Regions from separate parts of the Homo sapiens genome. Here all the other regions are linked to region 1. Evidence: fine-mapped expression QTL. A gene starts in region 1. Each other region holds a variant in brackets. All regions are shown on one strand. Distances are between the middles of the regions. Region 1 holds the start of OGFRL1 (opioid growth factor receptor like 1). Region 2 overlaps LOC124901339 (a long non-coding RNA gene). Region 3 overlaps LOC124901339 (a long non-coding RNA gene). Region 4 holds the start of LOC124901339 (a long non-coding RNA gene). Region 5 holds the start of LOC124901338 (a long non-coding RNA gene). Region 6 has its middle 71 kb from the start of OGFRL1.

Region 1 (4,958 bases):
TCACTGAAAGGTATTCAGATGGTGGATGGGTTGGTCTGGAGGATTCAATAAAAAAAAAAAAACAAAAACGTGGAATCCAGCAGGGGATACTGGAAGGTAGGCCTCAGCTGGTACCATGACCAGAGGATGACCAGAGGCCACACACAAGTGGCCTTTCTAGGAGTATGGCAGTCTCAAGCTAGCTGAACTTTTTACATGGCAGCATGGGGCTAACAGAGAGAATATTCCAAGAGACCCAGTGGAAAATGCAAGGTTCCTTATGGCTTAACTTAGAAAATCCTGGACTATCACTTCTTTCATATTCTATAGTTAAGCAAGTCACTGAGGCCAGCTCCTTCAAGAGTAAGGAATAAGACTACTTCTCAATGGGAAGAGAGCAAAGAACATGTGGCCAACTTTAATCTACATACACCTAAACCAACAGATGGAGCGCCTGGGACACAACAACTATCCTTAGACTTTCCACATCAACAATCTCGGAACACTTAAGGCTGGATGGACAATATCTACTTCTGCAATGTGTTCCGGTCTTCTACCAACGGAAAATCGAATTCCCAGCTTTGAGCAGTTGGATTCCTGTGGTATGTGGCTGCCCCACATCTTCTTCTGCTAAGCCATTATAATCAAAAAGTATTTTTTTTGGCGGGGGGTGGGGGCAATGGAGTCTCACTCTGTCGCCCAGGCTGGAGTGCAGTGGCCTGATCTCAGCTCACTGCAACCTCCACCTCCCGCGTTCAAGTGATTCTCGTGCCTCAGCCTCCCAAGTAGCTGGGATTACAGGCGCCCGCCACCAAGCCAGGCTAATTTTTATATTTTTTTGTGGAGATGAGGTTTCGTCATGTTGGCCAGGCTGGTCTTGAACATCTGACCTCAGGTGATCTGCCCGCCTCGGCCTCCCAAAGTTCTGGGATTACAGGCGTGAGCCACCGCACCCGGCCCCAAAAGTCTTTTTGTGCACCCCGTGTCTATTTCTTATTAGTTTCAGAGCTTTTCCCAGTCATAGGATCACAGAAGGTCAGAGCTGGAAGGGCTCCCAGAGATCTGGTTTCATTTTACAAATGAGGAAGTTTAGGTTCATGTGACCTACTTAAAGTCAGAAACTGATTAGTGACAGAGCTACAGCCTAGATGTCTTGTTGCAGTGCATGAAGAGCTTAGGTAATCCTGATTTATCCATGGAATAGGCAGCTGGTTTACCTGATTCTTCCCTTAGAAACAGTCCATCTAACATGATTTGGCTTCCTACTTCATCATGAAACATTTGAAAAGAAACTATTCATTCCAAGTTCAACAGTTTAATCTTCAAATATCTAGCTCATCTTTCTTAGTCCATATTTAACAAATGTTTACTGAGCATCCACCAAGTTGACAGCACTGTAAATACAGACACACTTTCAGACGGGGGCTGCCTGCAAAGAGGCTTCCCTTCTAGTTAGAAAGCCAGAAGACACATTTTACAACAGTCACTTTTCTCTGGGTCACATATTTGATAATACTACCTTATCTTTACGTACTTCTATAGGCTTATGCCTGTAATCCCAGCTATTGGGAGGCTGAGGCAGGAGAATTGCTTGAAACCAGGAGGCGGAGGTTGCAGTGAGCCGAGATCGCGCCTCTGCACTGCAGCCTGGGCAACAGAGGGAGACTCTGTCTCAAAAAGAAAGAAAAGAAAGAACAGAACAACAGAACAGAACAGAACAGAACAGAACAGAACAGAACAGAACAGAACAGAACAGAACAGAAAAAAGAAAGAACTTCCCTAACACAGTTCTCCCTCCTCCTTTCATTTGCAGAACAGACCACAGGGCCGAGGCTTCTTCCATTAGAAACAGCCCATCTGTTCTACTGATTCTGAGATTTTTGCCTACACGGAGCACCAATTTGTAGTGGGTGTAAGGTTACCCGCAAATCAATGTGATGGTCCAGTTGTTACTGTTCCTTTTGTTTCACGAGCGATTGCTCATTAGATGAGGTGACTGATAGCTCTGACTTTTTCTAGACCACAAGGACTCTAGGTGGCTGCCCTAAGTACAGTTGTGGCAGCTGGGATTTCCTGTTTATATGGTGCCCGGCACCATCAGCTTTTGTCCTCTGCTGCAGCTAAAGTGTCTTCCTCCTGGACCAGGGAGAGGGGGAGGGGGTGTGGACAGGACCCGCCTGCTGACGGTGACACCTCTTCGACACCACGTCCACGCCAGTCCTCAGCTCCAGGAGCTGGGCGGGATCCCTCATCCCGCTCAGCTGGGAGATGCCCCGGGAGGGCGTCCCCCGGCTCCGGGCGGCGAGGGTAGTAGCCGACCCCAATCCACTCCGGGGGCCGCCGGGGGCCGCGTGAAGGCAGGTGTTCCGGGGAGAAACGTGGAAGGGAGGCGCGGCCTGGGGCCGGTGGCGCTCGGCTGGGGGCCGCAGTTGGCTCCCCTGGGGGCTCTGGGCGGCGGCAGCTCCCGCCTGTGGGGAGGAGAAGGAGCCGGATGGGCGGGTTCAGGCGCGCGCGGCGGCGGTCCCGGGGCCGCCGGCTCCTCCCCGCGAGGGTGCCTGTCCGCCGCTCGCCGCGCTGAGGCAGTGCGGGGCGGGCGCGCCTAGGCTGCCGCCCAGCGCCCTCGCCGCGGCCATGCCCGGGCCCTAGAGCGCCTGCCGCAGCTTGCGCCCCGCAGCCCCGCAGCCCCGCGCCCGCCGCCGCCTCTTCAATGGGCAACCTGCTCGGCGGGGTCAGCTTCCGCGAGCCCACCACCGTGGAGGACTGCGACTCCACCTGGCAGACCGACTCGGAGCCCGAGCCCGAAGAACCAGGGCCGGGCGGCGGCAGCGAGGGCCCGGGGCAGGAGTCCGAGCAGCCCGCGCAGCCCCCGGAGCAAGCCGGCGGGCGGCCCGGCGCCAGCCCCGCGCCGGACGAGGACGCCGAGGCGGCGGGCGCCGAGCAGGTACGCGGCCCAGCGGTGGCCTCGGGTCGGGCTGGGGCGCCCCGACACCCCAGAGGGGCAAGTGCCAAGCCGCCCTCGCGCTCGGAGGCCAGGGGCGCCAGGTGGCTGCTCGCCGCTGCGACCCGACCCCTCCGCGCCGCGGCTGACCTGTCTCCCGGTGGAGCCCGGGGGCCTGCAGGAGCCCAAAGCGCCGGACCCTCCCACTGCCGGCCTGGGGCCTGGCCGAGGGCACGGCGAGGAAGTCCCTCAAGGCAGAACCCAACTTGAATGGGTGTTTTCTTTGCCTCTGCAGAGCAGCTGGATTATGCGAAGGTGGGGTGGGAGGAACCTGTCTAAAAATAGAGGATTTTGACAACCCCTCTAGTGTGTGTTATTGGTAAAAAAAAAAAAAAAAAAAAAAAAAAAAAAAATTACTCAGAATAAGGTGGGGCTACAAGTGCAAGCAGCCAGCGCTCTCCCCTACAGTGGGGTCTAAGCCGTCAGAAGTGTAGGCCCTCATCTGAAGTTCATACGTCACTGTTCTGCCCAACTCAGGCCTTTCAACCTAGGATTCAGGGCATTCTTCACGAATCTTATTTCACCAGAAGACTTGTTGATCCAACTGTGTTTGAACTGTTTGACTAATACAGCTTGGAGGAGAGGTTAGTCAAGAGATAAGCCCCTTAACCTCTGATGGACTGAAAATAATCAGGAACTTTAAAAAGGAGGAAATATGTAGCCGACCCCCTGAAGAAGTGTGCATCCTGGAGGTGGTTCAGGTTTGCCGCTCCACATTAGGCCCTTCTCTTTATCAGCTAGGGGCGATGGAGATTGGGAAAATGGAGCCCAAAGTCCAATGTGACCACAGGGTTTTGGGGGAATCATAACCTAAATATTACAGCTAACACCGCCTCAGCCATCTTGATGATCAATTCTATTTAGGTAAGGAGGAAATCATAAAGTCTTAGTGCAGGCTCTGTGTTAAACGTGTTATTTAAATGAACTACAATTTTGGGGTGGGTGTTTGCTGTGTGGTCTCCATTTTAGAGAAAACTGAGGCTTAGAGAGAAAGGAAAACTTGCCCAAGATCACTGAGGGAGAGGATGATGCAAACCCAAGTCTATCTATCACTGATATCAGCGCCTTGGACCTGTGGAATTCTGAATTTCCATCTGCCCCTGTGTCTGGTTTGCCGCTGTTGTTTTGCATTGCTAATTCAATCTTATTAAATTATTAGATGCTGCATTCTCATGTTTTTCCCTTACGTTTGTCTCCCAATTAAGTAACCTCCTACAGAAATTTGGAATATCAAAAAACACCAGCTAAGATTCAATCCAACTAACCAGGTCCATCTATATAAAACATTTTAATAATGTTCAGTCAGTTAACTGCAACCCCAGTAACTAGTAGACTACACCAGCCCTCCCTATTCCCTTTTAATGATTAATTTTTCTTGTTAGTATCACCATCTGACTTCCCCAAAAAATCTGCTTTTCAATTTTGCCTTTTGACTGCCAACCCTATTTGTTGTCTATTCCTCAGAGTCAATCCACTTGCAGGTAATACTGGAGCTACTTTTAAAGCGTATCCCAGACTGACTCCTTCACACCACTTCCATTGCATCATCCTAGTCCCTCTGAATACTGAACAAATGATGGTGACATTAACCAAGACAGGGAAGTCTAGGGAGAATGCAGCTATGGAGGTTAAATCAACGATTCTCTTGAGTTTGATATCCTATTACACATCCAAGTAGAGTTGTTGGGTAGTTAATCATTTGTTGGGTAGTTAAATTACATCTATGAATGGAGACAGTCCAGGACTAGAGTCCTCAGCATCTGAGATCAATGGTATTTAAAGGCATGGGAAGATAAGGGGTTATCAAGGAGTGATGACGACTGAGGACCTTAGGCACCCCTCCATTTAGAGGGTATGAAGAGGAGGAGGAGCCAAAAAAGGAGGCTGACAAGGGGAGCCCAATGAGACAGAAAGTAAACTAAGAAAGTTATAGTAGCCTGTAAGCCAAATACTGACAGTGTTTCAGGAAGGAGGGATGCTT
Region 2 (4,958 bases), 38 kb before region 1:
ACAGCAAGAGCTCATCTTCTTGGCTATTTCCCAAGAATACCATCTTGCTTACTTCTCCTTGCAGAAGGAGCATGTTCTCATTTTCACTGGCTCTTTGACTCACAGGCTGTACCAGTTAACTGTTGCATGCCTCAGGATGTTTCTGCCCTGGTGACTGGTTTAGCTATGCATTTCTGACTTTGACCTCTGACTTCACTGTTTGCTGTCTGCCTCCATCCAACCATTAAGGTCCTGAGAGCTACTTCCTGCCACCTCCCCCAACCCCTTAAGCCCATTTGAGCAAGGCTAGCTCTGTCTAGCCTCCCGCCAAGAGAGGGAGAGCCCAGCCCAGGAGCAATAAAGCCCAGATGATAATTCAAATGAAAGCACTTTTGGAAAATGTCATTCCAATGTTTTTGAAAATGACAACCATCACAAATTCTTGACTACTATCAGTTATTACTAGGCTGGTGACCTTGATAAAAAAAAAACACAATTATTATGAAGGCAGATCTGTGAATTTCTCTTACTTTTTAAAACTGAAGTAATAAATTCCCCAGGTATAGACTTCAAACAGCATCTGTTGACTTAATTAGAGGGGAAATGCTTCAAGGATGAATTCTTTTCCTACTCTGTTAACTTTTCAACAGATGATACATCTGAAACAATAGGCTGGGAGCAGGTGTGTGATGGCCTGAGTCTTAGCTTGCATTTGGCAAAACTCTGACTACTGAGTGAAGCCATTAGCGATGTTGTCAGTGAGATTGATGATGTTATGCATTTTGAAATTGTCCTTGACAAATTATATAAAATGTACAATTCTTCTCCAAAGACATATCATGAATTGTAGCAAAATGTAACACATATTACACCATTTCTCAGGGGTGAGGATTTTATTAGCTCAATGAGGCACACCCAGATTGAGTTGAAAAAGGTCTCTGAAATAATTCTACTATAATGTGTCATTGTAAGCAGTTCAGAGTCGACTGAGAAGAGCTGCTTGAATGAGCTGAGAGGGGGCTATTTAAACAACACCATGAACCTCTCCTATCATTAGATTCCTCCTTCCATATTAGATGGGGACCTGGTATGATGGAGGGGGTGGGTCTTGCAAAGACAGACTCCAAAGATGTGAGAAGACCATGGATAATAAACCTGAATCCAGTGTGCCAGTCAAATGTGTTGCCCTGAGCTTCTTAAACTAAATGCATTTGCCCTGTGCATAGGAAGAAACATCTGCATAGATGGATTGGGGCAAGTTCATCACCGCCAATAATTGATAATTTAAAATATTATCTTATGTTAGAACAGAGGTATTATGAGATACAATTTAAAAGTCATAAGATTTTTAAAAAGAAGAATAAGAATGTAAAGAAATCTATGTTTGCACTGGTTAGCCACCCTCCAGTTATGGGTACACATCTAGCTGCCTCTGACTTAAACATATTCATATGGACATGCTTATTTTGGATCAGAAAGTGGGTATCTAAGGATGGAGTCAGAATGGACAGGCAGAAGTACCACTTTAGGAAGCTTGAAGCATCTCCAGAGACCAAGGCTGAAATCCACACAAGGCTGAATAGATATGCTAGATCCCTTCATCATTCCCTCCCTGCTTCTCTTCTCTTCATAGAACTAAAGCACAGAATCATTGAGTTTCAAGATTCAGAGAGTTTTTTTTATAGAACCATCAAGTCTAATCTTATTATATGAAAATTGCACAAGAGTCTTAAGAAGTGGTTTTCAAGCATCTTTTGGCATACTTTCAATGACAGGAAACACACCATTTCGTAAGACAGCTCTTTCTACCTTTCAAGAATGTGAATTATTTAGGAAATGTGAGCTTGGTATGAGTACTCGTTTCTGAAGTCAAATTGTAAGAAGGAAAATTGGCCTTAGAAATCCACTTATCCTAACTTCTTATTCAGTGCTCTTTTCATGAATCTGTAGTAGATATTCTTGCTTCTAAAGTGGTCTAAAGAAAACTGGGTTGACAAAACTCTGAAAGGGAAGTCCTAACTCAAGCCAGGGGAAAAATAGCAAATGACATCACAGGAAGTTATGAAATCTAATTCAGTGGAGAAATATGCAGAGCTTTTGACCATCTCCTAAGACTGGGACAGGAAATTCTTACTCCACTTTTGGGTTGCAGGGCTTGTTTA[C/T]GAAGAATATTTCCTCCTTTGTTATTCCCTTTGGACCAGCTTGCAGATTACTCAAAGATACTCCATTGCCTCGGCCTGGGGGAAATAAAAATCTATTGTCCTATTAAATAAAATTAAAGGATGCACAAAAAAATATCATAATGATTCTAGAATTACTCTCAATTCTAGAGAGTCAACTACATGTCACTTTCAAAATCATCCTAGGGCATTATCTCAAAGTGATAAAAACATTTCACTTTTAATTAAGCAATTGATTCTTCTCCCTTGTCAAGTGCAGAACTTATGTAAAGATTTTATTGTACTCTATACATTCTTTTCACAATATCTACCACTTTAGTGTATCATCACTACTCCCATTTAATGCCCTATTAACTGAAATCTTGAAAAGGATATAGGGCATATGAAAGCCAACCTTATTTAGGGATCTATAGCTTGACATTCAGTTCCTGCTCATCAGCCCCTAAAGTGAAGTTTTATAGCAGATGTGCTCCATTTCAACAGAGTGCATGAAGTTCTCGGTCAAAACTCTTCTTACAGAGACCTAGAAGGAAAATAATCCTACTCATGCAACAGCAGAGGAAAGAAACCCTAGTGATCTACACCTTCTTTTTAAAACCTGGCTGGACAACAAAGGATAAAGAGAAATGTGAGAACTGTCAGCAGCATTCAAAAGAATAAGCAAGGTCAAAATACAGAAAAACTGATCTGAGAAACTAGAAATAATAATCTGAGCCACAAACTGTTCAAAGTTTACGTATAATAAGTTCAATCATTAGAACACCCTTATGAGGTAGGTACTATGTTACTTTATTTTACAGATGAAGGAACTAAGGTACAGCCTCTCCTGCCCCCAGGCTTAACCTCATGGTACAGGAAACCATCTGTAGGGTCTGTAGTTTCCCCATCTCCTCCCAGCCAAACCCCCGGTCATCTTGGCTTGAGTGGTTCCAGAGGCTCCACCAGGAAACATGGTTGCCCTCCTGACTGTCTTGGCACAGAATGTTGGTTGTTTTCATCCTTCAGGTAGAATTTAACCTTTTCAGCTTCAAACTGGAACCAGAGAGCTATTCAAACTAAGAAAACAAAGTTCATATGTACAGCAGTAAAAATTAAAAATCAAATTGTTAACATAGAGTCATCTCTACAACAACAACAACAACAAAACTTCAGAATTTGGCAGTGTGCTGAAAGAATTGGAAAATAAATTGATTATCAGCAGGAAAATAGAGCAAAAACCCAATAACAGTTGTTCAAAATATATAACAATGTAAAGTGACTTTAGCATCAGTTATAAAGTGTGACACCTACACCTGATTTTGTTGCAAAGCTCAGAGAAATGAACCTAAGCAATTAAAAATACAGTAAACAGTTTTAAGAAAGAACAGAGGTTGATTACATGAAAAGCTTAATAAAGACAAGAAAATAGCCAAAAATTAGTTGAATACTGTATCAAGGAAAATTGACATATGGGCTTTGGGTCACTAGAAACATGGAGAACTTTCAGAGGAATGTTAAGCAAAGTTCCTGTAGACAGAATACAACAAAGTAGTCTTCCAGGAGAAATGGTAGATTTTGCAAAATTCCTTCAGTAAACAGGAGGATGTCAAGGGTGCTGGATGATTGTGATCACCAGAACTTTGTAAAAATGAGAAACAAACATAAAAAGAAGACAAGATATATAGGGAAAGTTTTGCAACACCATCCTGGAAAAGCACAGGATAAAGTGCAACAGTATGAAAGATACATTAAAAATGTCTGACTCTAGAAGAGAGGAAAAAAAATCTATTCAAAATTGGAAAACTAAAAAACAGCAAACAGGGAGAATACTTTCAAGTTAAAGGGAAAGATGAAGGATAAGCCAGTCCTTCCTCAAAGTAAACAAGAATGTAATCACAAGCAAAAAGAGGAGCAAAAAAACCAAATTGGTGATTGAAGCTTAGAAAAAACAGAAAAATATTTAAGTGTCAATTAAATATGCTTATATTTTAAGGAAGCTAAAAGAGGAAGAAGAGAAAGAGACAAAGTGGCAAAAAAACCATCAATGTCAATGTAAACTAAAATTACTACCTGAAAGTAATACCCAGCAGAAGTAAAAACAGGAAGAATTTTTGAGGCTTGAAAAGGAAATAAAGGAAAAGGCAAAAAAAAAAAAAAAAAAAAAAAAAAGGAAATCTGTGGCTGATGAAATCTCCAGGTTTCAAGAAAGAGACTGATATAAACTTGAATTGAAAATTATAGATGGACAGGCAAAGGAAGGTGAAAAGACAGAATAACAAAAAGACTATCACAATTAAAAGATTGAAAATCATCAATATGAGATCCCTGCAGGCTTTCTAAGTTTACCAAAGGTTGGAAAGAATTAGACCGAAAATATTAGACCAACAAGTTCTGGGTCATTTCTACATGACCCACACAGGGAGGGCTATTGCTATCTGGAGACGAGTAAAGAGAAAGATATGAGATAATGAAATTGGTATTTACGCGAGGAGAATGTTAACATATTCAATTATTCTGGCAGATATAGTGACTAATTGTGTCCTTTAAATATCACTAAACTAGTCAGATTGATTATTAATTGTGCTGTAATGTGAATTGACAGTTCCATGCTGGCATCGTCATCAGTATTTCCTGTTTACGCTGAAGAGGTATTTAATGCATGTGTTGGTTTATTACCAACATAAAAGTTACTTAAATAAGTTTATTTACATACACTTAAATGTTCATTTAAATGCTCAGAACATTTTGAAAGTATTTTGTTTTTGTCATGGCATAGAAAAACAAATTGGGACAATCATAGAGTGACAATTTTTAAACCAA
Region 3 (4,958 bases), 22 kb before region 1:
ATGTGTTTGCAAAAGCCCTAAAGAAGGAAAGAGACTGCTGAGTTTAGGAACTGACTATAGGCTCATGACTGGGAACACAGTTGTATGCAGAGCTTTGAGGACAAAAACATAAAGGGACTTGATTTTATTCTGTACAATGGAGAGTCACTGAAGAATTTTCAAAAATTTAAACTGACACTTGATATAGATGTTAAAAACAATCATTCTAACTGCTTTATGAAGAAAGAGTTGAAATAAAGTGTGTAAAACAATGGATCAGTTCAGAAGCCTTTAGAAGTTTGGTGGGAGATGATGCTGGCTTAGACTATGACAGTGATGGGTTAACTGGAGGAGAATTGGAAGAGAGCTGGCACATACCTCCCTTGTGGGTTGGGGGCAAGTGAGGAGAGGGAAATGGCAAGGGGATCAGGAAGATGCCCAAGTTTCCCAGAGGAGAAGTTAAGGCTGGATATATACCTTCAAGGATGATCAGCATTTAGTTTTCATAGCCATGGGGACTAGATAATATTGAAGATACAGTAAAAGGGAAAATGTTGAGAGCCCAGCACTGAACCCTGAAGAGTATCTTTGGGCCTTCTACGGCCCTAAGGAGGAGTCTAGCTTGAAGATAACCGATTACCTCAAGGACATGTAATAATTCCTACATGTTCAGATTTGTGTCTAGATATCTCTAACATTAAATCCCATTCAGTACATTTACTGAGTATCTATACAATTTAAGAGACCATGGAAGGTGTTGTAAAAGATATAATCCAAACAAGCAAACTTTAAGAGTTTGATATCTGGAAATATGTACAAAAATCTAAGATATGTACAAAAGTGCAAGTCAAATCTGACAGATGCTATAAGAGAATTATAAAGCAAAATGGGAATCTACAGAAGTCAAAATGGAAGATTTAATGGATAAGGTTAGCATTGAGCTGGTCTTGAAAGAGGTGCATGAATTTTAATAAAAAAGAGATCACATGCATATATACATATGTGAGTGTGTGTGTATAAATAAATATATATATTTGCCCCATGCAGCACGTACTTACATTTATGTCTATATCTACATTAGTCTGTGTATATATATTTATGCGTTCAGAGTTCCAATCCAATTCTAGTTCAGCAACACAGTGTTGTTCTTTTTTTTTTTTTTTTTTTAATTGATCATTCTTGGGTGTTTCTCGCAGAGGGGGATTTGGCAGGGTCACAGGACAATAGTGGAGGGAAGGTCAGCAGATAAGTGAACAAAGGTCTCTGGTTTTCCTAGGCAGAGGACCCTGCGGCCTTCCGCAGTGTTTGTGTCCCTGGGTACTTGAGATTAGGGAGTGGTGATGACTCTTAACGAGCATGCTGCCTTCAAGCATCTGTTTAACAAAGCACATCTTGCACCACCCTTAATCCATTCAACCCTGAGTGGACACAGCACATGTTTCAGAGAGCACAAGGTTGGGGGTAAGGTCACAGATCAACAGGATCCCAAGGCAGAAGAATTTTTCTTAGTACAGAACAAAATGAAAAGTCTCCCATGTCTACCTCTTTCTACACAGACACGGCAACCATCCGATTTCTCAATCTTTTCCCCACCTTTCCCCCCTTTCTATTCCACAAAACCGCCATTGTCATCATGGCCCGTTCTCAATGAGCTGTTGAGTACACCTCCCAGACGGGGTGGTGGCCGGGCAGAGGGGCTCCTCACTTCCCAGTAGGGGCGGCTGGGCAGAGGCGCCCCTCACCTCCTGGATGGGGTGGCTGGCCGGGCGGGGGGCTGACCCCCCCGCCCCCCTCCTGGACGCGGCGGCTGGCCGGGCGGGGGGCTGACCTCCCCGCCTCCCTCCCGGATGGGGCGGCTGGCTGGGTGGGGGGCTGACCCCCCCACCTCCCTCCCGGATGGGGTGGCTGGCCGGGCAGAGGGGCTCCTCTCTTCCCAGTAGGGGCGGCCGGGCAGAGGCGCCCCTCACCTCCCAGATGGGGCGGCTGGCCAGGCGGGGGGCTAACCCCCCCACATCCTTCCCAGATGGGGCGGCTGGCCAGGCAGAGGGGCTCCTCACTTCCCAGTAGGGGCGGCCGGGCAGAGGCGCCCCTCACCTCCCGGACGGGGCGGCTGGCCGGGCGGGGGGCTGACCCCCCCACCTCCTTCCCGGACGGGGCGGCTGGCCGGGCAGAGGGACTCCTCACTTCCCAGTAGGAGCGGCCGGGCAGAGGCACCCCTCACCTCCCGGACGGGCAGGTGGCCGGGCAGGGGGATGATCCCCCCACCTCCCTCCCGGATGGAGCGGCTGGCTGGGCAGGGGGCTAACCCCCCCACCTCCCTTCCGGACGGGGTGGCTGGCCAGGCGGGGGGCTGACCCCCACCTCCCTCCCAGA[C/T]GGGGTGGCTGCCAGGCGGAGACGCTCCTCACTTCTCAGAGGGTGTGGCTGCCGGGCGGAGGGGCTCCTCACTTCTCAGACGGGGCAGTTGCCAGGCAGAGGGTCTCCTCACTTCTCAGACGGGGCGGCCGGGCAGAGACGCTCCTCACATCCCAGACGGGGCAGCAGGGCAGAGGCGCTCCCCACATCTCAGACAATGGGTGGCCTGGCAGAGACGCTCCTCACTTCCTAGATGGGATGGCGGCCGGGCAGAGACGCTCCTCACTTTCCAGACTGGGCAGCCAGGCAGAGAGGCTCCTCACATCCCAGACGATGGGCAGCCAGGCAGAGACGCTCCTCACTTCCCAGACGGGGTGGCGGCCGGGCAGAGGCTGCAATCTCGGCACTTTGCGGGGCCAAGGCAGGCAGCTGGGAAGTGGAGGTTGTAGCGAGCCGAGATCACGCCACTGCACTCCAGCCTGGGTACCATTGAGCACTGAGTGAACGCGACTCCGTCTGCCATCCCGGCACCTCGGGAGGCCGAGGCTGGCGGATCACTCGCGGTTAGGAGCTGGAGACCAGCCCGGCCAACACAGCGAAACCCCGTCTCCACCAAAAAAATACGAAAACCAGTCAGGCGTGGCGGCGCGCGCTTGCAATCGCAGGCACTCGGCAGGCTGAGGCAGGAGAATCAGGCAGGGAGGTTGCAGTGAGCCGAGATGGCAGCAGTACAGTCCAGCTTTGGCTCAGCATCAGGGGGAGACTGTGGGGAGAGGGAGACCGTGGGGAGGGGGAGAGGGAGAGGGAGAGGAGGGAGAGGGAGAGGAGGGAGAGGGAGAGGAGGGAGAGGGAGAGGAGGGAGAGGGAGAGGAGGGAGCCACAGTGTTGTTCTTTCTCAAATGTACAACTGGCTCTCACAGTTTAAAATAAAATTGCTTTTTTTTCAATGTTAGTATACACAAGTAGTTTCAGAATTGCTAACTCATACCCCTGTGAGAAACACATTTATTAAATAGCACATAGCAACTAGGTACAATAGTTTTTTTCTTTCATTTTAGTAGAATCCAATCAAAATACTGACTTCTAAAAGTTACTTAGGTTAGTTCTGTTCTCCATCTGTGTCAGTGTGGTAATGTCACTCATACGTTAGACTAGTAACATTTGATAGTTTGTATTCCATTTTGGGATACCCCCACATCTTAGTATATTTTTATTTAGTTTACATAGAGTAAAATCCACTCATTGAGTTGTATAATTCCTCAGATTTTGACAAATGCTTAGGGCCATGTATCCACTTGCACAGTCATGACACAAATCAATTCTCACCCCAAAAGTTCCCCAGTGCTGCTCCTTTGTAGACAACCACTACCCGCACCTGCAATCTTTGGCAACCACTCATCCGTGTTCTGTCACAATTTTGGTCTTTTCCAGGAAGGTACATACATGAAATAATATGGGTCTGTCTACTTTCACTTGGCAAAATATACTTGAGATTAATCGATATGCTTGCAAGCATCAATAGTTCATTCCTTTTTACTGCAGAGTAGCATTCCATTGTGTGGCTGTATCATGGTTTGTTTATCTGTTCACTGGTTGAAATACACCTGGGCCACACAGTTTGGGGTGATTATGAATAAAGTATGATAAACACTCATGTACAGGTTTTTGTGTGAACATAAGTTTTCACTTCTCTTGGGTGAATACATAGGAAGCTTTGAATTTTTTTCCCTCTTTGTGTTTCAGTTTGGGTGATTGCTATAAACTGATGCTCAAGTTCACTGATTCTTTGTTACATCTTCTGATGTGCCCATTGAAGGCATTCTTCACTTCTGTTGCTGTGATTTTCACTTTTTGCATTTCAGTTTGATTGATCCTTATAGTTTCCATTTCTCCTGAAATCACCCATCTGATCTGGCATGTTGTTCTCCTTTTCCACTAGAGCTATATCATATTACTCATAGTTATTTTCAATTTCCTGTCAGATAGTTCCAACATCTCTGTCATATCTGGGGTCTGGTTCTGTTGACTGCTTTATTTTTGACAGTGTGTTGTTGTTTTCTTTATCACTTTTTTGTATGACTTGTAATTTTTTGTTGAAAGCCAGACACCTTGTTAAGGACAGCAGAGATGAGGAAAATAGATTTTATGCCTGAAAATGCATACACCTGTCTGTCCTTCTGCTAGGATTCTAGAGTGTGAGTCTGCGTTAGGAGTTGGGCTGAGTTTAATTCTCTTCCTCCACTGTAGTGGTTACCCTTAGGGCACCACAAGCATCAAATTCCTTTAGTGACACTTTGTGGTTCAGTTGGGGGCTGGTTTGCCTGTAGTTTTTTCAATTCTGCTCCATCTTCAGCTTTAGATCTTCCCTTTGCACTGTACCTCAGAAATGGTCTGTGCCCACACTCTTGGGCCTCTTCCAGCAACATCCCACTGTGACTTGCTACTCCACTTGTGAGCCTGGTGATGGGGAGGAGGAGCTCTCTGTCCTATTAAGCCCTATCTTAGGCAGCAGTGTGTATGGGGATGTGGTCTTCTCATAGTCCTCTCTCTCCCTCAGCTGTAGTTTAGGGCCCTGTAGACGTTCTAGTGTGGCACCCAGGATGGGGTGACCAACCCCTCCCAGCTTG
Region 4 (4,958 bases), 45 kb after region 1:
TTGTGCTACGCTGTCTGTGTCCTGTTTTTCCACTTCCACATTTCTCAGGGAAGCATTGGCCCAACAGGGCAGTTAGGGTGTTTTGGTTGCAAACAATAGAAAATAAGTCTATTATATTCTATTACAAGTGAATTCATTAAAAACTCAGATTACCAGAACCTGTTTGGAATTTATGGGACCTAAGAATTTCCACTAAGTCTTAGAAGCAAGACCTGATGGATGCCCCATGTATGTTATGAGCCCTGGAATGTCCTTTTTCCTTTCTGCCTTGGCATAACATGGCCTAAAGTTCAAGCCCTGGAAAAGTGTGTCTGATTGGCCAAGTATAAGTGATGTACCAGCCCTTAGTTATGCCAGGTAATAACAGAGAAATTAGTTGAAATTAGTTGAAGAAATTAGTTAAAATTAGTGAATCCAGTGATGCCTGGATTTACTTTCCCAACAAGATTGAACATAATCGGGGAGCTAATTACCTAGAAGGCTAATAGGATGCTAGAAGGAAGTGGGTGATAAATGTTGTGTAGACAAAATACGGAAACTGTGTTCCATTCCTCTTCATCTTTTAGTTTATCACAGCACATGACTCATCATTTGCTGATGAGACTATAAGTGGGCTGTTGTTTAAAGTTGTGGCCAGCCTTAATGCATTTCAAAGTAAAATAGAAATGACCTTCCAATTATCTGCTACTTTGAATTATTTATGATGCCACTTCCTTCTGTTTGCACATCCTACATCTGATCATGGAAAATGATTATCAGATAAAACTTTGGCATCTTCTTTCTTTATTTACAAACACTTCTTCAGCATTGGTCTTTTATTTACTACTGTGGCAGGTGTTGTGGGAGATAGGGGAGCACTGCATAAGATGTGATTATCGTTTTCTAGGTGCTTGGAACTGAACATAGGAAACAATAGAAAATAGTATGGATAAAAGAATATAAAACAGTACATAATTAAAGACAAAAATTTCATCTATGTGTATAGTGGAGGTTGAGTATAACTTATGTTAATGTGTGAGGAGCTAGGCGAAATGTGTAATTTAAATCTTGAAAGGATACAGTTGATCTGGGAAAGATAAATTTGTGGTGTGGTAGCTAGTTGATCTATGTCCAGACTATGTTCATCTAAATTACAATTTTTGCTATTCACTTGTTCCAAAAGGTAGGATAGAAGTTTATTTAGAGTCTATGTCTCTTCTTCAGTGTGCTGCTTATAAAGATTTTGTACCAGGGTCATTCTCCTTGGCCATCATCCTATGTAGCCTCACAGGAAGGTGTCACAGTTCTGCTATTTCTAAATGTCACAGGCCCAGCCCACCTGTCTACTGCCATCTTTCTACTGTGAATGTCATGAAACGCCTCTGGGAGCATAAATAACTTTATTACTAAGCTGTAAAGTAGAGCAAGTTATTAATATTGTATGAATTGCATTCAATTCACTTTTTACCTCTAATAGGGTGAGATCTCACTATATTCTGGAAAGTATATCCTTCAAACTGCTGAGTAGCATGTATTGAATTAACTGAATTAGGAAGCCCCATTGCTGCTGGAAATTTGGACTGCAAGCTTGTTTTAATAAGTTCAAGTTTACTTCTGAGATCATCATTTTCTTTAGGAATTCAATTCAATAAGGCTGCCTAACTCTGACAGTAAGTACGAGAAATTAGATTTTATTGTGAAGTATAAACAGGCCTGCAATTGATGATATAAGACTCTAAACATCATCAAGAGGCTTGTGGACTGCTTTGCTATGGGAAGTAATTGACACTGAAAGCTTTTGGAAACTGAAGTTTATAGCACTGGGCCCAAATCAATGATATTTTATTTTATTTTATTTGAGGTATTTGAATAGGGCATTAGTTGGCATGTTCTAATACCATGTGATGAAGCCCAAGTTTGGGCAAAGTATTAACCTCCTCTACAACAAACAGAAGTTAGACAAGGTTTTAAAATTACCACCAGATCTTTGAGGAACAGAGGAAGAAAGTGTTCTAGAGATACCACAAACTGAGCTTCATTTGATGTGGGTTTATTTCTCGTGGGCCACTAATAATCACATGTTAAATTTTCTCCTCCATATTTAAAGATTGAGAGTCCATCCTACCCTTTATTATAAGTTGATTAAAAAACAAGACTCTCTAAAAAACTCAAAATACTGGGTTCTAGTCCTGGATTTTCCACCAGGTCACAAGATTCTTAGCCTTTATGTGTCCAGTGACAAGAAACATGACTCGTAACCTCGGTTTGCACAATCTTCTCTCAGGAACTTCCCAGGGAATGTGCAATTTCTGGCTCACAAGCAGGGAATAAGCTGATTCATTCTTCTGCTCAAGAATGAATCTTGGAATGCAAATGAGCATGTTATAGGAATAATCAAAATGTGATCTAATTTCTGAAAAAAAGTAATAATTTTCAACTGTTACTCTTTTATTATGAGTAACAAACTACTTGTGACATATTTTCAAGCCATGGTGACCTACTGTGAACACCTGGCTGGGAACTGCCACATTTGCAGTCTGGCTGACCATGAATGAACCAGTTAATTCCTCTGTTCTTCACACTCCTTAC[A/G]TGTAGGCATCTTCCAGTTCTGAATTTCTACAAGTACTGTCACCCAGCAGTAACCAATCCACGTGGGGCTACTCTCTATATATTTGTATCATGAGAACATAAGAAATTGCCTTGCTTGTTAAGTCTTACAGTTCCTTTAACACCAAATTCTGAATTTGACAATGGCACAGGAATATGATTTGGAGTATGTAATTATTTTCACTGGCATTCAAATAAAGGTTTATGGCTACTCCCTTGAAAATATTCACATGTTCTTCAAGGTCCATGTTGGATCTGTCAACTATTAACACATAATGAATGCAATAATATTATGATACAAATATTAGTGTGATGTAAATACAAAATATATATCTGCAATCCTTTCCAGCCCTTGGGGCACTAGCCTGTAAGTTCCAGGAGAACCCGGACTGTCTGATTTGTTCACTGTTCCATCCTCAGAGCCTGGCACAGAAGAGATGTCCAGTAATATTACATCCAGTAATATTTTTGGGTCAATTAAAAGATTCCATAGTAATTCCTTAATATGTAAGGTAGAGGTTTTAAAATTATTATTACCCGGTCTTGTTTGTTTACACATGAAACAAACCCAGCTTTAAAGAACTCAAATAAAAAGGAAAAGATGCTGTTTGTGTGATTAATTCTAGAACAAAAGGTGTGTGCCTGGTCTTGGGAGCAACTCTCAGGGGTCCAAATCAGCAGGCTTTCTGTCTCCATCTCTCATACCTCATTTACCCCAGTGTCCTCCATAAGGTGACTCATAGTCACAGGTAGCATGTCAGTCACATTTCAGTTTCCCCATCAGAGAGGGGTTTCCTCCTTTCCTTAGTTTCAGTTTGACTCTGTTATTTTTACTCACTCTTAGCAGCAAAGGTTAGGAGACAGGGTAAAGTTCAGTAGAAGGCCTTTTGTCAAGGATTTGCTAGTTCATGTTTAAACATGGGTTAAAGAAGGTTAAAAGGGATATTTCTTAAACATTTTTATTATACCTTTAATTGATTTGCCAATCTTGTGATGTAAAGCCAGGATCTTTTTTTTAAATTATTAAACTGACACTGTTGTTTGGAGCTACAGCTTGTTCTTCTTGATAAAAACTGACCCATCCATGCATCATACTTTTCAACTGTGACTTCTTTAAAATGGAGCAAAGATTTAATGATACTTGCAATATATCTGAGTGAAGAATCCATCTGGATGTTTAAAAATTTCCCTTCAATTGTGTATAATGGTATTTCCCATAATTAATTTGTCAGGATATTTTTGTTTGTTTTGTGATTTCCTTTATCAAGTTTTCCCAAAGCTTTCAGAATACATTTCACAGAAATAAAACTTTCATTTTTGCTGTGCTCATTTTATGTTTGTTTAATATTTAATGAGATTACTTGCTTATCATAACTAGTAAAACTGTTATAAAGATGTGAGAACAAATGCAATAGACTTTTGATTACTATGCAACTCAAAAGGGGCAATTGAAGTATGCAGACATTCTGAGAGATGCTGCCTAGCCACAGTGCTCAGTGGGTCCTGGATACCTGCTGGTCTTTTTAGCAGGTGAATGAAAAGCATCTGTTGTTCTGGTGATTCACATCTAACAAAGGTAACACTGAGCAGTGTATGGGAGGGACAGATAGGCACACATACAGACACACAATGCATAATGGGGTGGTTTGCAATAAAGATATGTACTGTGAGAGAAAAGCAATTCTGCCCAAGGGTAGGATGTAAGTTGGAGCTACTTCTTTAAGAACAGCAAAGAAAAGAAAGAAAACAGCAAATACCAAAGCAGGGATGTATAAAAGAATATTACAGAGCTTGTCAGAGAGCCAAATCATGAAAGAACTCTCATTCACAATTGCTACAAAAAGAATAAAATACCTAGGAATACAGCTAACAAGGAAAGTGAAGGACCTCTTCAAGGAGGACTACAAACCACTGCTCAAGGAAATCATAGATGACACAAACAAACGGAAAAGCATTCCATGCTCATGAACAGGAAGTATCAATATCATGAAAATGTCCATACTGCCCAAAGTAATGTGTAGATTCAATGCTATTCCCATTAAACTACCCATTGACATTCTTGACAGAATTAGAAAAAACTATTTTTAAATTCACATGGAACCATAAAAAAGCCTGAATATCCAGGACAATCCTAAGCAAAAAGAACAAAGCTGGAGGGATCACACTACCCAACTTCAAACTATACTACCAGGCTACAGTAACCAAAACAGCATGGTACTGGTACAAAAACTGACATATAGACCAATGGAACAGAATAGAGAACTCAGAAATGAGACCAGAGGCCTACAATCATATGATCTTCGACAAAGCTGACAAAAACAAGCAATGAGGAAATGATTACCTTTTTAATAAATGGTGCAGGATAGATAACT
Region 5 (4,958 bases), 55 kb before region 1:
CATTAAAAAACAAACAAACAGACAAACAAAAAAAAACCTTTTATACTGCATTTTTACTATCCCCTTTCTAAGTTTCGATAGGTTTAGATATGCAAATATTTACCATTATGTTACAATTGCCTACAGTATTTGGTTCATTAGCATGCTGTACAGGTTTGTAGCTTAGGAGCTAGGCTATATGATATGGCCTAGGTGTGTATTAGGTTATACCATCAGGTTTGTGTAAGTACACTATTCCCACAGTAAAGAGATCAATCTAAGGATGCATTTCTCAGAATGTATCCCTGTCATTAAGCAATGCATGACTATATTCTCTCACATTTAAGAATATCTATTTGTGGTATTTATACTTGAGTGGAATCTTAGTGGAATACAATATTTTTGGATCACATTTCTTTTCCTTTAGAACTTGGTAGACATTGCTTTATCATCCTGTAACCCAGAATGTTACTCCAGAGAAGATTGAGTCCAGTCTGCTTTGCTCCCAAATATAAGAGGCTTATTATTTGTCTCTGGATGGCTAAATAATTTTTTCTTATTCTTAAATTCAGTAACAACAGAATATGACTTAGGAAAAATAGGGTTGAATATGTTTGTCTTGGAATATGATATGCACTTTTGAGTTGCAGAGTGTCTTATTCTTGCATTACAGGATTATTTTTCTATTTTCTATTGGAATACTTTTTCTGAGTCATTTACTGGTTTTTCAATTCAGAGATACCTATTATCTTTATATAATGGCATATTTGTCACTTCTCTCTAGCTATTATCTTCTCTCTATTTCTACTAATCTGTTCATCTTTTTCCGTTGATTTTACTGTGCTTATCTCAAGCCTTTTCTTTGTAGAGCAATTTATTTTTCAGCCATGTCCATTAAATTTCTTTCTGCATGTAATTTGTTTATAAGTTCTGTAATGGTGTTATTTTAGTTTCAATTTGTTTCCTTATATTGTCAATTTCCATTTTTACATCATTCTGTATTGTTATCATCTTACATTTGAGCTTGTATTTTATTCATTTCATGTACTTAATAAGATTTTCTATAGCATGAATATTTCTCTGTGTTCTTTGTTGCTATAGAGTTCCTTTCATTCTTATTTTTTGTTCTGCTTACCTAGTTCTCATGTCATCCTTTTTTCATCTTGTTCATATTTTCAGTGAGCTCTGCATCTGAACTCTGTTTTTTGTTCTGGTATAGATTGAGTGAATTCCCCTTAGGTCCCTTCCCATATTAACTGAATGTGAGGGTATTTCTCTACAAGATGTAGCTTGAGAGCTTGTAATTGATTTATACTCACTTCTAAGTAGCCTGAGGGTTTAGGTGTGTATGTCTTGGAAGATAGGCAGGAGTAGGGAGAGAGCTAAGCTAGGGCTAGGTACAACCAAGTATTTCAAATATTCTATATTCTTCTAGCTTTTTCTATTTGACCTGTTTTTTCTTCTTTTTCTTTTTTATTTTTGACCTTTTTTCTTATTGAAGTGTTTAACGTATCCTACTATAGTTCTGGATTTGTCAGTTTTTGTAATCCTATCAGTTTTCTCTGCCTAGTGCGATGTTATGTTTAAGTGCATACAAGTTAAAGATTATTTTATTGGCTTGGGGATTGTTCTGTATTATTTTATAATGCACCTGAGATGGTTTGCTGTGTCCTCATCCAAATCTCACCTTGGATTGTAGTTCCCATAATCCCCACCTGTTGTGGGAGGGACCTGGTGGGAGGTAATTGAATCATGGGGCGGTTTCCCCCATGCTGCTGTTCTCATGATAGTGAGTTCTCAAGAGATCTGATGGTTTTATAAGGGGTTTTCCCTCTTTGCTGGGCGCTTCCTTCTGCTGCCGCCATGTGAAGAAGGATGTTTTTGCTTCCCCTCCCACCATAATTGTAAGTTTCCTGAGGCTTCCCCAGCTATGCAAAACTATGAGTCAATTAAACTTCTTTTCTTTATAAATTACCCAATCTTGGGTATGTCTTTATTAGTAGCATGAGAATGGACTAACACGTCATCTTACTATAAATAATAAAATAGGTTTAATAAAAGAGGTTTAATAAAAACCTCTTAGTTTTTCAAAACTTTATGTTCAAAATTTTCTTTTGGTTTGGTGTTAGGTGTGCCTTTTATTAACCAGGATACAGCAGGATTTATGTTATTATTATCCCATCTCTGCCTTTTAATAGGTGAATTTTATCCACATTGACTCTGATACATTACACTTTTGGGCTTATTTGTACCATTTCCTTTTGTGCTATCTACTTACCTTTCACTTT[C/G]TTTGCTTTTTTGCTGTGTTCTGTTGGATTGACAAAGGATTCTGCATTTTTCTTTTTCTTCCTTTTTTTCAACTCCTCTACTTTCTCCTTCTTTTCCTCCAAATCATTCTATTCTTCCTCCTTCTTTTGATTCCTCTGGAGGTTTGAAAAATATCAAGATTATTTCTATTTCTATATTGGTAACCCTAAGATTATGCCTTATTTTTCTATTTCATGTATAGCAAATACATACAGATGAGCACACTTATATGCAGAAATGTTGATTTTAATATATTTTCACAAAGTAAATACATCTGTGTGACTATAACTCAGATTAAGACATAGAACATTGCCAATACCCTGAATCGCCCTCAGTATCTCCCTTCTCTTCTTAAGGTTAACCATATCTGTCTTCTTTACCATAGATTAGCTTTGTCTGTTTTGAACTTTTCATAAATGGGATATGACATGAACTCTGCATCTGGCTGCTATTGCTCATTCTTATGTTATTAGACTCATCTATGTTATTGATTATATTGATGATTAATTTACTTTTATTATTATGAAGTATCCCATTGAACGAATGCACCACAATTTATTTATCCATTCTACTCTTGCTGGACATTTGGATTGTTTCTAGTGTTTGGGGATTACAAATAATGCTGTTTTAAACATTCTCTAATTTCATTTCATTCTTTGTACCTGCCTTTCATTGACATTTCATTTACAACTCTGTTGGGTATATACCTAGGAGTGAAATACTGGCATTACTGGGTTGTAGGCTATGCTTATGTTTAGTTTTAGTAGTTACTGCCAAATAGTTTTCTGAAGAGGTTGTACCAATTTATATTCCCATGTGTAGTGCATAAAAGCTCCAGTTGCTGCATATCCTCAATATATGGTAATACCTGTTTCTCTAGATTTTACCTATTCTGATGAGTGTGTAGCTGCATGCACACAATTTTTAATTCATTCATTACTAATGATTTTGAGCACTTTATATGGCTATCACCCATTTATGTATTGTATTTCATGTATTACCTGTTCAATATCCAAGTTTATTCCAATTTTTTAATGGATTGTCTGTCTTTTATATGGCTTCACAGAAACATTTAATATGTTTTGGATAATAATCTTTTGTCAGGTAAAAATATTGAAAGTATCTTTTCCAGTTGGTGGTCTTCTCTTCCACTATTTGTGTTAGTCTATTCTCATGCTGCTGTGAAGAAATACATGAGACTGGGCAATTTACAAAGAAAAGAGGTTTAATTGATTCACAGTTCTGCATGGCTGGGGAGGACTCAGGAAACTTACAATCATGGCAGAAGGCATCTCTTCACAGGGTGACAGGAGAGAGAATGAGTGCAAGCAGGGGAAATGCCAGACACTTATAAAACCATCAGATCTCACGAGAACTCTCACTATCACAAGAACAGCATGGAGGAAACCACCCCCATGATCCAATGACTCCCTACCGGGTCCCTCCCATGATACATGGAGATTATGGGATCTCCAATTAAAGATGAGATTTGGGTGGGGACACAGCCAAACCATATGACTATTTTACTGGGGTTTTTGATGAACAGAGGTTCTTAATTTTAATTATGTCCCTTTAATCACTATTTTTCTTTAAAAAAATTTGCCCATCTTAAGGTCATAAAGATATTCTCTCTTATCTTCTTGATGTTTAATTGTTACTTTTCAGGTAGGCATATACCTCCAACCCTGAATTGATTTTTGTGTGTCATGTGAGGTAGGATGTCAAAATGTGTTTTTTCCTCATATAGATAACCAGTTGACCCAAAATCATTATTAAAAATACCATTCTTTTTTCATTTGCATTATGCTTTATCATGAAACAAATTGTCACAAATGTTTCTATTCTTTTCCATATTTCTATTTGTCTATTTTTATGCTAATGCAAAACTGTCTTAAATATCATCACTTTGCAATACATCTTGATAACCCTTAGAGGGATTTTGTCCTTCTTCAAAATTGTCTTCTCTGGTCTTGGTCCTTTACATTTCCATATATAGATATATTCAATTGTTAATTTCCAATAAAAATATTTTTAAGCTTTTAACATACAAAGCTGTGAATTATATATTAATTATAACTATAATTTTAAAAATATCTGAAATTATCTAGTATTTTTATCCTACTCAGAAACCCAAGAACCTAAACAGGAATATATTATAGATTGAGAATCTATTTTCCAGCACCTTGTTTGTGTTGCTAAGTTATTTGGATATAATATTCTAAATTTCCAGTTTCCCATCATTATATTGAATTTATTTCTCTATTGTTTCATGGCATCTATGGTTGCTAATGAGAAGCCCACTTGATTTATTGTTTAATTACCATTTCTTGTTGTAACCTGTTTTTCTCCTTGTAGCTGGTAAAAACATGTCCAAATTCTTGATGTATTCCAGTTTTACTTTGGTAAGTCTGGGTATGAATATATTTTTGTAGATCCTTCTTGGTTTTTATAGTTCATTTTCAATTTGAGGACATATTTTTCTTCAATTTTGGAAAACTCACAGCTCTTTTCTCTCCAAATATTACTTTCTTGTGACTTTTTCCTTCCTTAAAGAAAAATAGGCAGTCCTATTTGTCTTCAGACTATCCTATATAGTTTTAGGTGACCATACAACTATTGCCTAATAAATTATATTTATATAATTATGTTTATATAACCAGAGCCCCACCTAG
Region 6 (4,958 bases), 71 kb before region 1:
CCCAAAGGCCTGGGTTTACAGGTGTGAGGCACCGCGCCTGGCCCAGAAAAGGATTTCTTAGATAAGACTTAAAAGACACAAACCCAAAAGAAGAAAGATTAATTAGATTTGACATTTGTATCTTTTATCAAAGTAAAAAGGGATTATATTTACAACACATATTAATGATAACTGAATCAATAAAGTTGATCTCAATCAATTTAAAAAGGTGAATTGCATATAAGTAAAATTGTCAAAGGAGATGAACCAGAAACTCACAGAAGGCAAATCTAAATGGCCAGTAAACATAAAATGAAAACTTCAAAAATAATTAGGGAAATTCAAAATAAAATAATAAGATACCATTCACATATATCCAATCAGGGAAAATAGAGGAGGGCTGCAATTCCAAGTACTGGTGAGAAAGCTGAGCAATACTAATCAACAAATCTGCTTCCAAGTGTATACCTAGAACAGAAACTCTATTACATATACAACAGACATGTACAAGAACATGTATAGCATCATTGTTTGTAAGAACAAACTATTGGAAATAAACACCCATCATAAGCAAAACTGATAAAGAAAAATTGTGTATAATCACAACAGACTACTATGTAGCAATGAAAATTAATACAAGGGTCAACATGGACGAATCTCATAATGTTAAGGAAAGAAACAAAATCAAGGAAAAAATATACATCATGATAATAGTTATATCAAGTTTAAATATTTCCACAAATATATTAACTAAATTGCTAAATACAAAATTTAGCCAAAAATTATTAAATATAAAATTCACAGTAGTAGTTATTGGTTGGGGAGAAGTGGGCGTGTTCATAACAGGCCTTAAGTAGATTGGTAATATTTTGTTTCTTAATATGGGTGGTGGGTATATGGGTATCTATTATACTATAAACTTTTATATGTATTAAGTATTCTATGATTAATAAAAATATTAAGAAGCATGGGTAGAAAAACATGAATATAGTCACTGAGTTTCTTAAAAGTGCTGGATACTATGCTAGACACTGGAAAGGAATATAATGCTGAATGAGAAAGACATAGTTCTTAGCTTTACAGACCTTGGAATCTATCTGGGAAAACAGACATTGAACAAAGAGTTGCCACCATTCCAGATGTCTTGCTATTTCCCAAACACATGATTTTTTAACGAATTATTCTTTTTTCTATACCCTGCCTGTACTTCTCTTGACCCTTCTTCTGCTGTGCAGGTCTCTGTGACTGTGCAATTTTCCCTGATGACCCCTGCAGGATTGATCTTGCCTTCTTTCTGATATCGCTGTGCCTTTCCTTTTAATCTCTAGATGCAGTAATCAGTTTTCCTTTCTGTCTCTGCCAACTATCTGTGAGCTCCTTGAAAATAAGGACCACTTACTGTCTATCCACCATCATGGCACATGGTAGGTAACATATATATGTTTAATAGCTGTGTTGACATGTAAAAAGTGAAGTACTAAGGCACTTATATGGATAACACAAGTTTCAAATAAAAGCACAATACAGAAGTCCTTTGCCTCAAAAAGTCAGATACTGTTGAACAAAAACTTATTTTAACATAGCAAATATAAATACAATTGTAGTCACCACTAAAGGTGATTTTTTACTTGCAACAAGAAATAACTTACTTTAGCCCATTCTCTTTTTGGAGTTTTCTTTGTCAAAATATTGACTTTCCCTTGTGTATAGAACTCCATTTATATGCCATCAAAATAAGTAGGTTAATGGGGAATTCAGGAAATTTTGATTAAAACATTATCATTCAAGGACTTTTTTTTCTACCTTTGATTTATGCAGAATTTTGTTTATTATTGGCCACTTTGCTTGGAAAAAATACTTTTTTATATAAGTATGTCCATAAGAAAAACACTAATTTTTTTTAGTTAGCATTTTTCTCCTCACATTGATACATTGTGAGGCTTCTCTGACTTGCTTTATATGTATAAGGATTGATAACTTCTTATAGCAATAATTTTTTTTACTGTAAATTTGGTTACTACTTCAGATAATGTGCTACCTTAGTGTAGCATAACTTTTTTCCCAAACTACTTCCAAGGATTAAGTCTTACTAAATACAATTTTCAGAAAAATCTTTTAATAATTATCCTGGGGCATCTGTGATTAAAAAGACCCCCATATGTTATTATTAAATTCACTTGTATGCAGAAGCAACTTGAAATTGAGATGACAGTTTTGCTATTACATGAATTTGGCCAGAACATACTATAATAACTATATTCTCTGCTGCCCTGTCACTAAAAATTTTTTCAAGATTTTCTACACCAAAGAATTTCTAATCACATACACATTTAAGAAAGTACTACATTAGAACAAATACCTAATGCATGTTTTTTACAATCATAAAAACACAGATGAATTTAGTTTTCCATTATCCTGCCAGTGACTGGAACCTGGCTTTTGCCCTGAGACTTGATCTCACAAAGACATATCCTCTTCCTATTTCCAGGACTTCTGTGGCTTTTATTAGACCACCCCATCAACACAGAGAGAAGACAGCCATTTGCTACATATAATTCAAAAGAATTTCTTCAAGACTTTTTTGAGGTAATATCAGAAAGTTTCCTTGATCTCTGCATTAAAAGAAAATTGGATCTTAAAGTTAACTCTACAGAAATGCACCCTTTGGAGTATCACAAATAAAACAGGTTTTCTGCCTGGGGACAGTTGTCTATTGCCCTAGCAGGTTGCACTTACTATACTATGGAAAATGAAACACTACTACATTTATCTGTCTGAAAAATTGCCCCAAGAAGGATGTTTACTATCTCCAC[T/C]ATTATTTCATGTTGAATTGGGAGTGTTGGACATTGTATTCAGATAAGACAAAACAAACAGGGGCACAAGAATGGGGAAAAATAAAGGAATAAAACTATGTCTATTTGCTACTGATGAGATAATATTCTTGGGAAACCTGAGATAGTCAGTAATAAAATGAACATATACATAAATTTGGTAAGGATACAATTTTATTATATGAAAATCAATAATCTCATATATACAAACAATAACCAGTTAGAAGACATAATGGAAGAAAAACCCCATTTACAACAACAAAAATATAAAATAGGAATAAACTTAAAAAGAAATGTGAAAAATCTACAAGGGAAACTTTAAATACACCTGAAAAGGGACAAAAGCAGATTTTAATTAAAAGAAATTCTTGTGTGTGTGTGTTTGTGTGTGTGTGTGTATGTGTGTGTGTGTTTTGAGATGATGTTTCACTCTGTCACCCAGGATGGAGGACAGTGGCAAGATCATGGCTCACTGCAGCCTCAAACTCCTGGGCTCAAACAGTCCTCTTGCCTGAGCCGCCGTTGGGACTACAGGCATGTGTGACCACAGGCACGTGCAACCCTGCCTGGCTAATTTTTTGAATTTTTTTTGAGAGACAGGGTCTCACTTTGTTGCCCAGGCTGGTCTTGAACTCCTGTGCTCAGGCAATCCTCCTACCTTCTCCTAAAGTCCTGGAGATTACAGGCATGAGCCAGTGTTTCCGGCTGAAATTCTTTATTCTTACATAGAATGACTCAACATAAAAAAGTTAATTCTCCCCAAGTGAATATATAAATTAAATGTGATCTAACAAAAATCCAACAAGTTTTATTTCTAGAGCTGTATAAGTTGATTCTAAGGTTCATATTGTAAAATAAACAAAAAAGTAGCTAGGAAAATTTATTCTGAATAACGTTTTACCAATTACCAAAGTTATACAAACTTCTGTACTTAAAATAGAGGGTACAGGTGCATACAGAGACACATTAGTAAAAAAAAAAGTATTATAGCAATTTCAGAAAGAGAAACAAGCACATATAAAAATGTAATATATGATAAAGATGGTGTCTCAAATCACTGAGCAAACACAGGCTTTTTTTGTTTTTATTTTACTTTAAGTTCTGGGATACATGTGCAGAACGTGCAGGTTTGCTACACAGGTAGACATGTGCCATAGCGGTTTGCTGCACCTATCAACCCATCATCTAGGTTTTAAGCCCTGCATGCATTAGGTATTTGTTCTAATGCTCTCCCTCCCCTTGCCCCCAACCCCCCAACAGGCCCTGGCGTGTGATGTTCCCCTCCCTGTGTCCATGTGTTCTCATTGTTCAAAAACACAGGCTTTTTAATAAATTATGTTAGAACAACTGGAAAATCACCCTTACTTTACATCATAGACGAGAGCAAACTCTAAATGGGGCAGACATCTAATGTCAAATATGAAACAATATGCTATGGTTTGAATATGTCACTTCCAAAACTCAGGTGTTGCCAATGTGATAGCATTAAGTGAGGCCTTTAAGAGAATATTAGACCATGAGGGCATTTCTTTTAACAATGGGATTAAGGCTTTATAAAAGAGGCTTTGCACAGCATTTGGCTTACTTGCCCTTTCATTTCTTCCACCATGTGAGGATACAGCACATCTCCCCTTTGGAGGATGCACCAACACAGTGCCATCATGGAAGGAGAGATAGGGCCCCTTATCAGACACCAAGACTGCTGGGACCTTGATCTTGGACTCTCAGCCTCCAGAACTGTAAGAAATAAACTTTTTGTTCTTTATAAATTACCCAGTCTCAGGTATTTTGTTCTAGCAGCACACACTGACTAAGATACCACACAAGGACTGGAAGAGAACTGGTGAAGTTTTTTAGTAAGCTATGGATAAGTTATGACTCAAGTTCCAGATACAATAAAAGACTGATACACTCAAGTACATTAACAAAAAAACAACAACCTCTGAATGACTTAAAACACCATAAACAAAGTCAAATGACAAATGGTAGATGGGGACAAAATATTGGCTATGTTTATCTGTCTCAAAAATTTCCCTAAAAAGGATGTGCACCATCTCCACTATCATTCCATGTTGCATTTATCATAGATAAACACAGGACTTGTAGCTCTAACATACAAAAATTTCTTAAATAGATTTTTCAAAATCT

The links.
Region 2: its variant is fine-mapped to the expression of OGFRL1 in whole blood (TOPMed, PIP above 0.99).
Region 3: its variant is fine-mapped to the expression of OGFRL1 in thyroid (GTEx, PIP above 0.99).
Region 4: its variant is fine-mapped to the expression of OGFRL1 in skeletal muscle (FUSION, PIP 0.93).
Region 5: its variant is fine-mapped to the expression of OGFRL1 in whole blood (INTERVAL, PIP above 0.99).
Region 6: its variant is fine-mapped to the expression of OGFRL1 in whole blood (INTERVAL, PIP above 0.99).

The regions. Positions count from the first base shown.
Region 1 is chr6:71,286,251-71,291,208 of GRCh38, forward strand. It overlaps OGFRL1 (opioid growth factor receptor like 1), which reads left to right and starts at 2,561. Exons shown (of 7, transcript NM_024576.5): 1 at 2,561-2,920. The coding sequence starts at 2,687. All of the region lies in intron 3 of LOC124901339 (a long non-coding RNA gene), which reads right to left. RefSeq lists a silencer at 2,214-3,273.
Region 2 is chr6:71,248,431-71,253,388 of GRCh38, forward strand. LOC124901339 (a long non-coding RNA gene) reads right to left here. Exons shown (of 6, transcript XR_007059640.1): 6 at 2,928-3,214. It also overlaps the pseudogene LOC100132834. Among named protein-coding and RNA genes, the nearest start is that of OGFRL1, 38 kb to the right of the region's middle. RefSeq lists a silencer at 3,045-3,312. The variant C/T (reference allele first, on the strand shown) is at 2,142.
Region 3 is chr6:71,264,286-71,269,243 of GRCh38, forward strand. All of the region lies in intron 5 of LOC124901339 (a long non-coding RNA gene), which reads right to left. Among named protein-coding and RNA genes, the nearest start is that of OGFRL1, 22 kb to the right of the region's middle. The variant C/T (reference allele first, on the strand shown) is at 2,353.
Region 4 is chr6:71,331,626-71,336,583 of GRCh38, forward strand. LOC124901339 (a long non-coding RNA gene) reads right to left here and starts at 4,455. Exons shown (of 6, transcript XR_007059640.1): 1 at 1-4,455. The variant A/G (reference allele first, on the strand shown) is at 2,569.
Region 5 is chr6:71,231,256-71,236,213 of GRCh38, forward strand. LOC124901338 (a long non-coding RNA gene) reads right to left here and starts at 3,517. Exons shown (of 3, transcript XR_007059632.1): 1 at 3,288-3,517; 2 at 2,258-2,402. The variant C/G (reference allele first, on the strand shown) is at 2,268.
Region 6 is chr6:71,215,303-71,220,260 of GRCh38, forward strand. No RefSeq gene overlaps it. Among named protein-coding and RNA genes, the nearest start is that of OGFRL1, 71 kb to the right of the region's middle. The variant T/C (reference allele first, on the strand shown) is at 2,793.